3 separate regions of the Homo sapiens genome follow, and regions 1 and 2 are each linked to region 3. Evidence: fine-mapped expression QTL. A gene starts in region 3. Each other region holds a variant in brackets. All regions are shown on one strand. Distances are between the middles of the regions. Region 1 overlaps ZRANB2-DT (ZRANB2 divergent transcript). Region 2 overlaps LOC102724572 (a long non-coding RNA gene). Region 3 holds the start of CTH (cystathionine gamma-lyase).

Evidence for each region. PIP is the estimated chance that this variant, and not a neighbour inherited with it, causes the effect.
Region 1: its variant is fine-mapped to the expression of CTH in monocytes after R848 (Quach 2016, PIP 0.95).
Region 2: its variant is fine-mapped to the expression of CTH in prefrontal cortex (GTEx, PIP above 0.99).

Annotation. Positions count from the first base shown.
Region 1 is chr1:71,161,201-71,164,016 of GRCh38, forward strand. All of the region lies in intron 2 of ZRANB2-DT (ZRANB2 divergent transcript), which reads left to right. Among named protein-coding and RNA genes, the nearest start is that of ZRANB2-DT, 81 kb to the left of the region's middle. The variant T/TAC (reference allele first, on the strand shown) is at 1,247.
Region 2 is chr1:70,848,558-70,851,373 of GRCh38, forward strand. The region is part of intron 3 of LOC102724572 (a long non-coding RNA gene); the gene reads left to right. Among named protein-coding and RNA genes, the nearest start is that of LINC01788, 140 kb to the left of the region's middle. The variant C/T (reference allele first, on the strand shown) is at 1,265.
Region 3 is chr1:70,410,025-70,412,686 of GRCh38, forward strand. It overlaps CTH (cystathionine gamma-lyase), which reads left to right and starts at 1,244. Exons shown (of 12, transcript NM_001902.6): 1 at 1,244-1,559. The coding sequence starts at 1,392. RefSeq lists an enhancer at 815-1,074 and a silencer at 1,135-1,284.

The DNA.
Region 1 (2,816 bases), 750 kb after region 3:
ATAAAATGAGATGTCCCAGCTTAAGTGATGAGACAGGAAAAAAAGGAATAAATCTCTCCTTCCTTTGCCTTTTGTTCTATTCAGGACTTCAGTGGATTAGATGGTGCCATTCGCGTTGGGGAGGGCAATCACTTTACTGAATCCCCTGATTCAACTGCTAATCTTATCCAGAAACACCCTCATAGACACACTCAGAAACGTGTTTACTCTGGGGACCTTGTGGCCCACTCAAGTTGACACCTAAAATTAACCACAAGTCTCCTCCTTGTCAACTGAGCACCCACACACATCTTCTTAAACCATATTCAATCTCCAAATGAAGACAATAATAAGGTCATAATTCCACCTAACATAATACAACTATCCTGTGTACAACTAAAAACACACTAACCCTTTCCCCAGAAGAGGAGGTAAATGTCTTTTCTTTTCTTTTCTTTTTTTTGTGAGACTGAGTTTTGCTCTTGTCACCCAGGCTGGAGTGCAATGGTATGATCATGGCTCACTGCAACCTCCACCTCCCAGGTTCAAGCAATTTTCCTGCCTCAGCCTCTTGAGTAGCTGGGATTACAGGCGCCCACAACCACACCTGGCTAATTTTTGTATTTTTAGTAGAGATGGGGTTTCACCATGTTGACCAGGCTGGTCTCGAACTCCTGACCTCAAATGATTTGCCACCTCAGCCTCCCAAAGTGCTGGGATTACAGGCATGAGCAACCGTGCCTGGCTGCAGGTAAATTTCTTGAGTGATGTTTTATATTCCTTTTAATATCCTGTAATGTAAATACTGTAATATAAAATCAACAATTTTAAATTATGTGATATAAAATAAATACATGTTATGTGAAAAGAGAATTAGAAAGAAAACAAACATACTGATTTGATTGGCTCTGTGTCCGCGCCCAAATCTCATCTCCAGTTGTAATCCCCACATGTCAGGGGAGGGACCTGGTGGGAGGTGATTGGATCATGGGGGCAGATTTTCCCTGTGGTGTTCTCATGACAGTGAGGGAGTTTTCCTGAGAGCTGATGGTTTTAAGTGGCAATTCCTCACTCTTTCTCTCTCTCTCCTGCTGCCATGTTAGACGTGCCTTGCTTCCTCTTCACCTTCTGCCATGATTGTAAGTTTCCTGAGGCCTCCTCAGCCATGTGGAACTGTGAGTCAATTAAACTTCTTTCCTTTATAAATTACTCAGTCTCAAGTATTTCTTTATAGTAGTGTGAAAACAAATTGGTACAGATACAGACA[T/TAC]ACACACACACACACACACACACACACACACACACACAAATGGAAATGTATTATGAGGAATAGGCTCACATGATTCTTAGTCAGTTTGGGCTGCTATAACAAAGAATTATAAACTATTTATTAGAAATTTGTTTTCATAGAAATTTATTTCTCACAGCTCTGGAGGCTAGAAATCCAAGATCAGGTTGTCAGCAGGTTTGGTGCCCACCAAGGCCTCTCTCCTTGGCTTGCAGCCCTTGGCTGATTTTTTTTTTGCTGTGTCCTCACATGGTCTTTTCTCTGTATGTGCATCCCTGGTGTCTCTCTGTGCGTCCAAATTTTCTGTTCTTATAAGGACCCCAGTCAGATTGCATTAGGGCTCACCCATGTGATATCATTTAAACTTAATTACCTCTTTAAAAGTCCTGTCTCCAAAAACTGCCTCATTCTGAGGTAGCGGGGGATAGAGCTTCAACATATGAATTTGCAGGGAACACAATTTACTACATAACAAAATATGACAGATCTCTGAAAGGTAACATGGACTCTTACTTTTTATCTTATGTATTTTTATTTCCTCCTTATTCTAGAGGCAGTGTAGCACAACTAAATGCATGGCTCTGGAGCCAGCCTACCTGCATTCATTCTTTGCCATGCTACTTACTAGATTTGCAACCAAAGGCAAATTGCTTGACTTCTCTGTATCTCAGTTTCCTTGCATGTGAAATGGAAATGGAATTGTCAGTAATAACTACCTCATTGGATTGGTGTGAAGTTTAAATGGATGAATACATATAACATACTTAGTAGTTGCTGGCACACAATAAACATTCAATAAGTGTTAAGTATGAAGAATAACAATAATTTCTGGCCATAAAATATATAATAAGATACTTATACATATTAGTGCTATAGATAAATATTTGTATTCTGTAGAGATGTATCAATTTTTCCATTAAATGGCATAATCAGAAAGAAAGATGTATAAATTTAAGGTGACTATCCCAGCTATAATTTGCATCACTTACTTTTCACATATTCACATACAGCATATATCTGTCTGACCATCTGTGTTTCTAAAATAACTCCAGTGAGATTTCAGACACCTAATATTGTTAATAACAAAAACGCCATGTGTCTTTTACATTTGTGTGGGTGATAATTCTGTACTTTAGTTTACCGTATTAAATTCACCCTTAATCTAGTTTTTGGTATATTTTGAAACATGGGTTAGCCCTTTTATTTTTTCTTTATAAATACATTACCATCGTTTTCTCTCTCATCTTCACAAATTCTAAATAATAAGCAAAAAGGAAAAAAATTTTAAATGATAAATATTTTATGCGTGTGCTTTTATATACAGTACCTTTCACCCATAACAATGACCTGCTAATAGTCAAATCCAATGAACTGTGTTCGGGCATTAACTAATTTATTGAAAGCAATGTCTCTGCATCACTTTTTTTTCTTTTTACTAACACACATAGCATTTGCTCTTTGCCTAGCCCTGCTATAAGCAATTTCCATTTATTAAATTATTTAGTTTTCAGAACAGCCCTATAGAGTAGGTGTTATTATTCCCATTTTACAA
Region 2 (2,816 bases), 440 kb after region 3:
CTTCAGGGATCTTGGAGGAGTTACTACTCTTTCTTATGGAGAGTCCATAAGATTTTTCCCCTGATAGGTAAGGTGTCATTTATTTCTTGGTGCTTTCACAATTTTTTATTTTGTCTTTAGTTATCTTCTTATTTTGATGTGTAAACTTTATAGTTTTAATAGTATGATCATGTAAGAGAAAAAATGGCATTTATGAATTTCAATCATTCCTTTAGTTCAGGCTTGTTTGTTTAAAAAACAAATAATTGAAATATTTGAAGATTAAAACAGAAACTCAAAATTTTATTAATTTAAGGAGGAAAGAATTCAAAATTTAAGTCCCAAATAAATCATTGTGTATACAAAGATTTAATACGAAGCTTTAATTATAAGGCTTTATTAACTAGCTAGTTAAATGATATTAGGGTTGTGGCTGGTAAATTAAAAGCAAATAAGAATCAATTTTACTTGAAAATAAAAGCTTTTGGAAAAAGGTATGAAGCAAGAAGTTTATCTACTCCCTCTTATATTGGACATGTGCAAGAATGGTTTTAATTATTTAGTAATCCAGACATCAAGAATTTGTAGTAAAGTGTACACACTGAAGCTGTGGGTATTCTGGGAGCAGTCAGCTGAGGCACCCAAATAACAGCTGTTGCCAGCTAATAGAAATATACTTAATATTAAAACAAGCAAACAAACAAAGAAACTTGGGAAAAATCAGGCACAAACCGCCAAAATGATTTATTTCTTTTAATTGTGATGTAGGCTGACAGAATGAAAATTAATAATCATAAAATTTTTAAGTAAAATTATTAGCCTTTTGCAATTTTTGTTGCACAGAACCCTAATCCAAGGGCATTTACTTTTCAAGCCAGATAGGATTTTGCCAGTTTCCCAAGCTAACTCCCTGATGATACAAAAATAAACTAATGAATGGCTCAGAGTTTATGAGCCATTCTCCAAGACAATTTGTCTTATTGAAATAATTGGGTGGCCCAGAACTCTGAAGAATGCTTGTCATTTTTCAAATAAAATTACTCATATTTTTGGACAGTTTTAAACTGTTCATTTGCACTATTTTTCTCTCTAATATGACATACCATTTGGAATCTAAATTTTGTTTTTATATTGTAATTCTGCTTTAGAGAAAAAATATATGTTGGATACAAATATGGACTGGGTATGTTTATCGCAAGCTATTTTTTCTTCCATATTTGTTATTATGAGTAAAAACTTCTATGATTCTTAATATAATGCATTTTCCTGTAAAAAATTTATTCTT[C/T]GACATGTAATACTTACAATTGGATGTTACCATCCTTCTTGGGCTATTATTATCAAATATTAAAGTATTACTTTCATTTCAAGAACTTCAGTAAGAAGAGAATGAATTCAGGGCTTTGCACATGAAGCCAAGCAGATGCCTGTGTTTACAAATAATAAACATAATGAAAAATTTCAATTGAAATCTAAATAAATAAATCTATGCATTTGCATGTGCCTTTATTTCTCTAGTCTATGTAAAGAGAAAAGCCAAATAGAAAGATAGGAAAACAAAACAAACAAAAAACCCTCTGACCTATATATTACAATTTGAAAAGGTGCATTCACTAGATCTCAATATTTAAGGAGGCATTGCTTCTTAAACGTCCAGAGGAATTTGTATGTTAACACCAATTTTGTGTGTGGCGGTGATGTATTAATATGATCTGGTATGTCTTAGAAATGTTTCTCTTTTTTTCAAACTGATTATGACACCCACCCATTTCAATAAATTAGCATTATCATCTCAACCAAATCGTCTTGCAGTGACATCAGATTCTCTTATTATTGCATGAGCTATGTTTGAAAAGTAATTAGAATTAATATTTCTGTTTCCTATCATCCAAATTAGCATTAATTGCACACATAACATTTTGTTTACAGCACTCACCAGACATGTAATAATCCTAGTAAAGACATGGATAGGAAAGGTCCAGAGGAAGGGAAGAGATAATATGCATGCTGAAAGGAGGGAAACCCCAGTTGAACTTAAAACTAATTTATGGAATGTGATCATATTTGACAAACAGGTTGTCCATAAAGGCAGGAAACCTTTACTATTTTTTTTTTTTTGAGTTGGACTCTTGCTCTGTCATCCAGGCTGGAGTGCAGTTGTGCGATCACGGCTCACTGCAACCTCTGCCTCCTGGGTTCAAGCGATTCTCCTGCCTCAGCCTCCCGAGCAGCTGGGACTATAGGTGCTTACCACCGCGCCTGGCTAATTTTTTGTATTTTTAGTAGAGAGAGGGTTTCACCGTGTTAGCCAGCATGGTCTTGATCTCCTGACCTTGTGATCCATATCCCAAAGTGCTTGGAATTACAGGCGTGAGCCACCGTGCCCTGCCAGACACTTACTTTTAATACCTTTTTGCATAAGTGTCAATGCTTCACAAACAAGGGATGTTCCACGAAGAAATCTGTGTGGTGGTAGCAGGGGTGAGGTGTGGTTAGAGATGGAGATTTGGGAAAATAGAAAGTATAGTAAACTGCCTGTTTCCCAGGCTGTTTCCAAGAACAAAATCTGAACTGTAGGGAGAGAAAGCGTTATGGAAATAGAGATAGAGATCGAGATAGATATAGAGATCGAGATAGAGATAGAAATAGGTAGAGATAGAGCTAGAGCTAGATGTAGAGGTAGAGCTAGAACTAGAGCTAGAGATAGAGATGAGGTGGAGATATAAGTATAGCTAGAGCTAGAGGTAGAACTAGAGGTAGAACTAGAGATAGAGATGAAGTAGAGGTAGAGACAGAAGTAGAGCTAGAGCTGGTATCAGTACTAGAGGTGGAGGTAGGGA
Region 3 (2,662 bases):
ATCCATTTTTTCCCCCAGCCATACAAAGTTTGGTAGGATTCTAAAAGCTTGTAGGCCCTCAAGCACCACTCCTCTAGTGCTTAATGGGTTAAATGTCCCTAAAGCTAATTTGAAAAGCAAATTGCCTCATTCTTTCTCTTCATATCTTTCTTTCAAACTGTAAATTTTAAGAGCTGTTTATTCCTTATTCTCCTTGTTCTTAATTTGTTTAATAAAGTTTTAGATCTTTAGCGAATATTTTGCAACAACAGAAATATCCCCAAATTTCCTGGTGCTAGAAAACAGCCACAATAGTAAGTAGGTCAAGTCTGTATTGCTTAGGGAACAGGGAGATTTTTGTTTTAAAGCAGTGATTCTTCTGAGAGTAGGGCTCTGGGCGCAGGTGAGTGGTAAACAATCCTTTTTCCTGCAGGGATGTTGCTGTTGTGTAAAAGCAAAAGCATTTTGTGTAAGGATGTTAGGCTCCAGTAAGTATTTCAAAGCCACATTATCTTTCTCATTAGGGGGAGTTTCTCTCTGTACTTTAAAAGAAGATAATGATGCTTGAAAAAGCTCAAGATTGACTAACTTTTAGGAAGCTGCCAGAGTTGTGCATAGACGTCCTCACTACAGTAGCTTCGTTATGTCTTACGAACAATTTAACCTTCACTTCTAGTCATCGTTTCGTCATCGTAAGCACTGGGTCATTACAGAGTTCAGTGTACCTAAAACGCAAGCTGTGACTGATGAGAATCCAAGCTGCAAACTGGGCGGCTTGGGCAACTGTTTTCTTAACCACCCTCCACGTTGTGGCTTACGTCTTTTAGCACCGCCCTCAGGGCAAAGGATGGTGGTCAGAGGTAACTACCACAGTAAAAGAAGGCTATTTATGTGGTCTGTTTACAGTTACCCGGTTTCAACACTAAGCCAGCTTTCCGCCACGTCTCGGGCGAACCTCCGGCCTGAGGTCACAGAGACGCCCGGGTGGCTCTCAGGAGCCAGCATGGCAGCCTCCTCAGGACGGGTACTCAGGAATTTCGCCCGCAGGGACTAACACCACTTGGACCCAGGGACTCCAGCTTCACTCCGCTTTGTGCACTGGGTGGGGCGGTCGCGGTGACGTTTCAGGCAACGCCTCTGCTGTCAGCCAATAAGGAGCGGGAGACGCGTCGGGCCTGCGCTCAATGGGCCGCGCTGGTCCCGCCCCACTGTGATCGTGAGACTGCAGACCCGCTAATAAAATCCACCCCAACAATCGCTGTGTGCCGCTTTAGTGCGCTCGCCGTCGGCTCTACCTGCGTGCTTTAGCTCCTTCTCGCCTGATCCTTCTGTCTCTCCCAACCCCGGACACCCGGCTTCGACTGGTTATATCTTCGGTGTTCTTTTCCTCTCTTCTTCTTTCGCGGTTCAGCATGCAGGAAAAAGACGCCTCCTCACAAGGTTTCCTGCCACACTTCCAACATTTCGCCACGCAGGCGATCCATGTGGGCCAGGATCCAGAGCAATGGACCTCCAGGGCTGTAGTGCCCCCCATCTCACTGTCCACCACGTTCAAGCAAGGGGCGCCTGGCCAGCACTCGGTGAGCTGGGTCTGTCTGGGGCTGTCCACAGTTGGGCGGTAAAAGAGATACGGCTTATGAATTTGAAAGGCATGTAAGTAATTTATAATATGACTTATAAATTAGGAAGGCAACCGAAAGATGTTTCTACACTGTAATTCTTGCAGCACAGCTTTGTATCGGATGGTCCAGTGATCGTATTTCTTTTGATAAGCAGGACTGGAAGGAGCCGTTTGTCCAGCTTGCCATTTAGATTTGGCCTGAAATTCAGGTGATTTTGACAAATTTGCAATTAAAAATCGAAGGTCATAACTTTTTTGAGTTACCTTTAGCAGCATAAATTTTAAAGATGTAGTACGGAGTCAGCTTAAAAAATATTAAGGGTCTGATAACTTGACTAGAATTAAGATTGTTTCCAGTAGCTGTATGAATAGTTATTGAGTACCTACTATATGCCAAATACGTGCTCGTATATATCATGTGTATTACATGTATTGTCTCATCTAATCCTAACAACAACCCTAGTCTGAACCGAATTCTCATTTTTTCCCAATAAAGAAGCTGAGATTTAGGGAGTTAAGTAACTAGCCTTAGACTAGTAAGTATTGGAGATGGAATTCAAACTTTAGAAACTTGAGGTTGCTTTAGGAACCAACTCCTAGGCACTCAGCTACACTATGCTATCTCTAATAATGCTAGTAACAATTTAGCCTATTGCGTCATTTAAGCACTGTGGCTTAGTGATTAAGAACACAACTCATGACCGGGTGCAGTGGCTTACGCCTGTAATCCCAGCACTTTGGGAGGCTGAGGCGGGTGGATCACCTGAGGACAGGAGTTCGAGCCCAGCCTGGCCAACATGGTGAAACCCCATCTCTACTAAAAATAAATAAATTAGCTGGGCATGGTGGCGGGTAATCTCAGCTACTCGGGAAGCTGAGGCAGGAGAATCGCTTGAACCCAGGAGGCAGAGGTTGCAGTGAGCCAAGATCTCACCATTGTGCTCCAGCCTGGGTGACAAGAGTGAAACTCCAACTCAAACAACAACAGAAAAAGAGAACACAAATCTTATAGTCAAAGGCTAGGTTTGCATTCTGACACCACTTCTTCTGAGCTGGGGGACC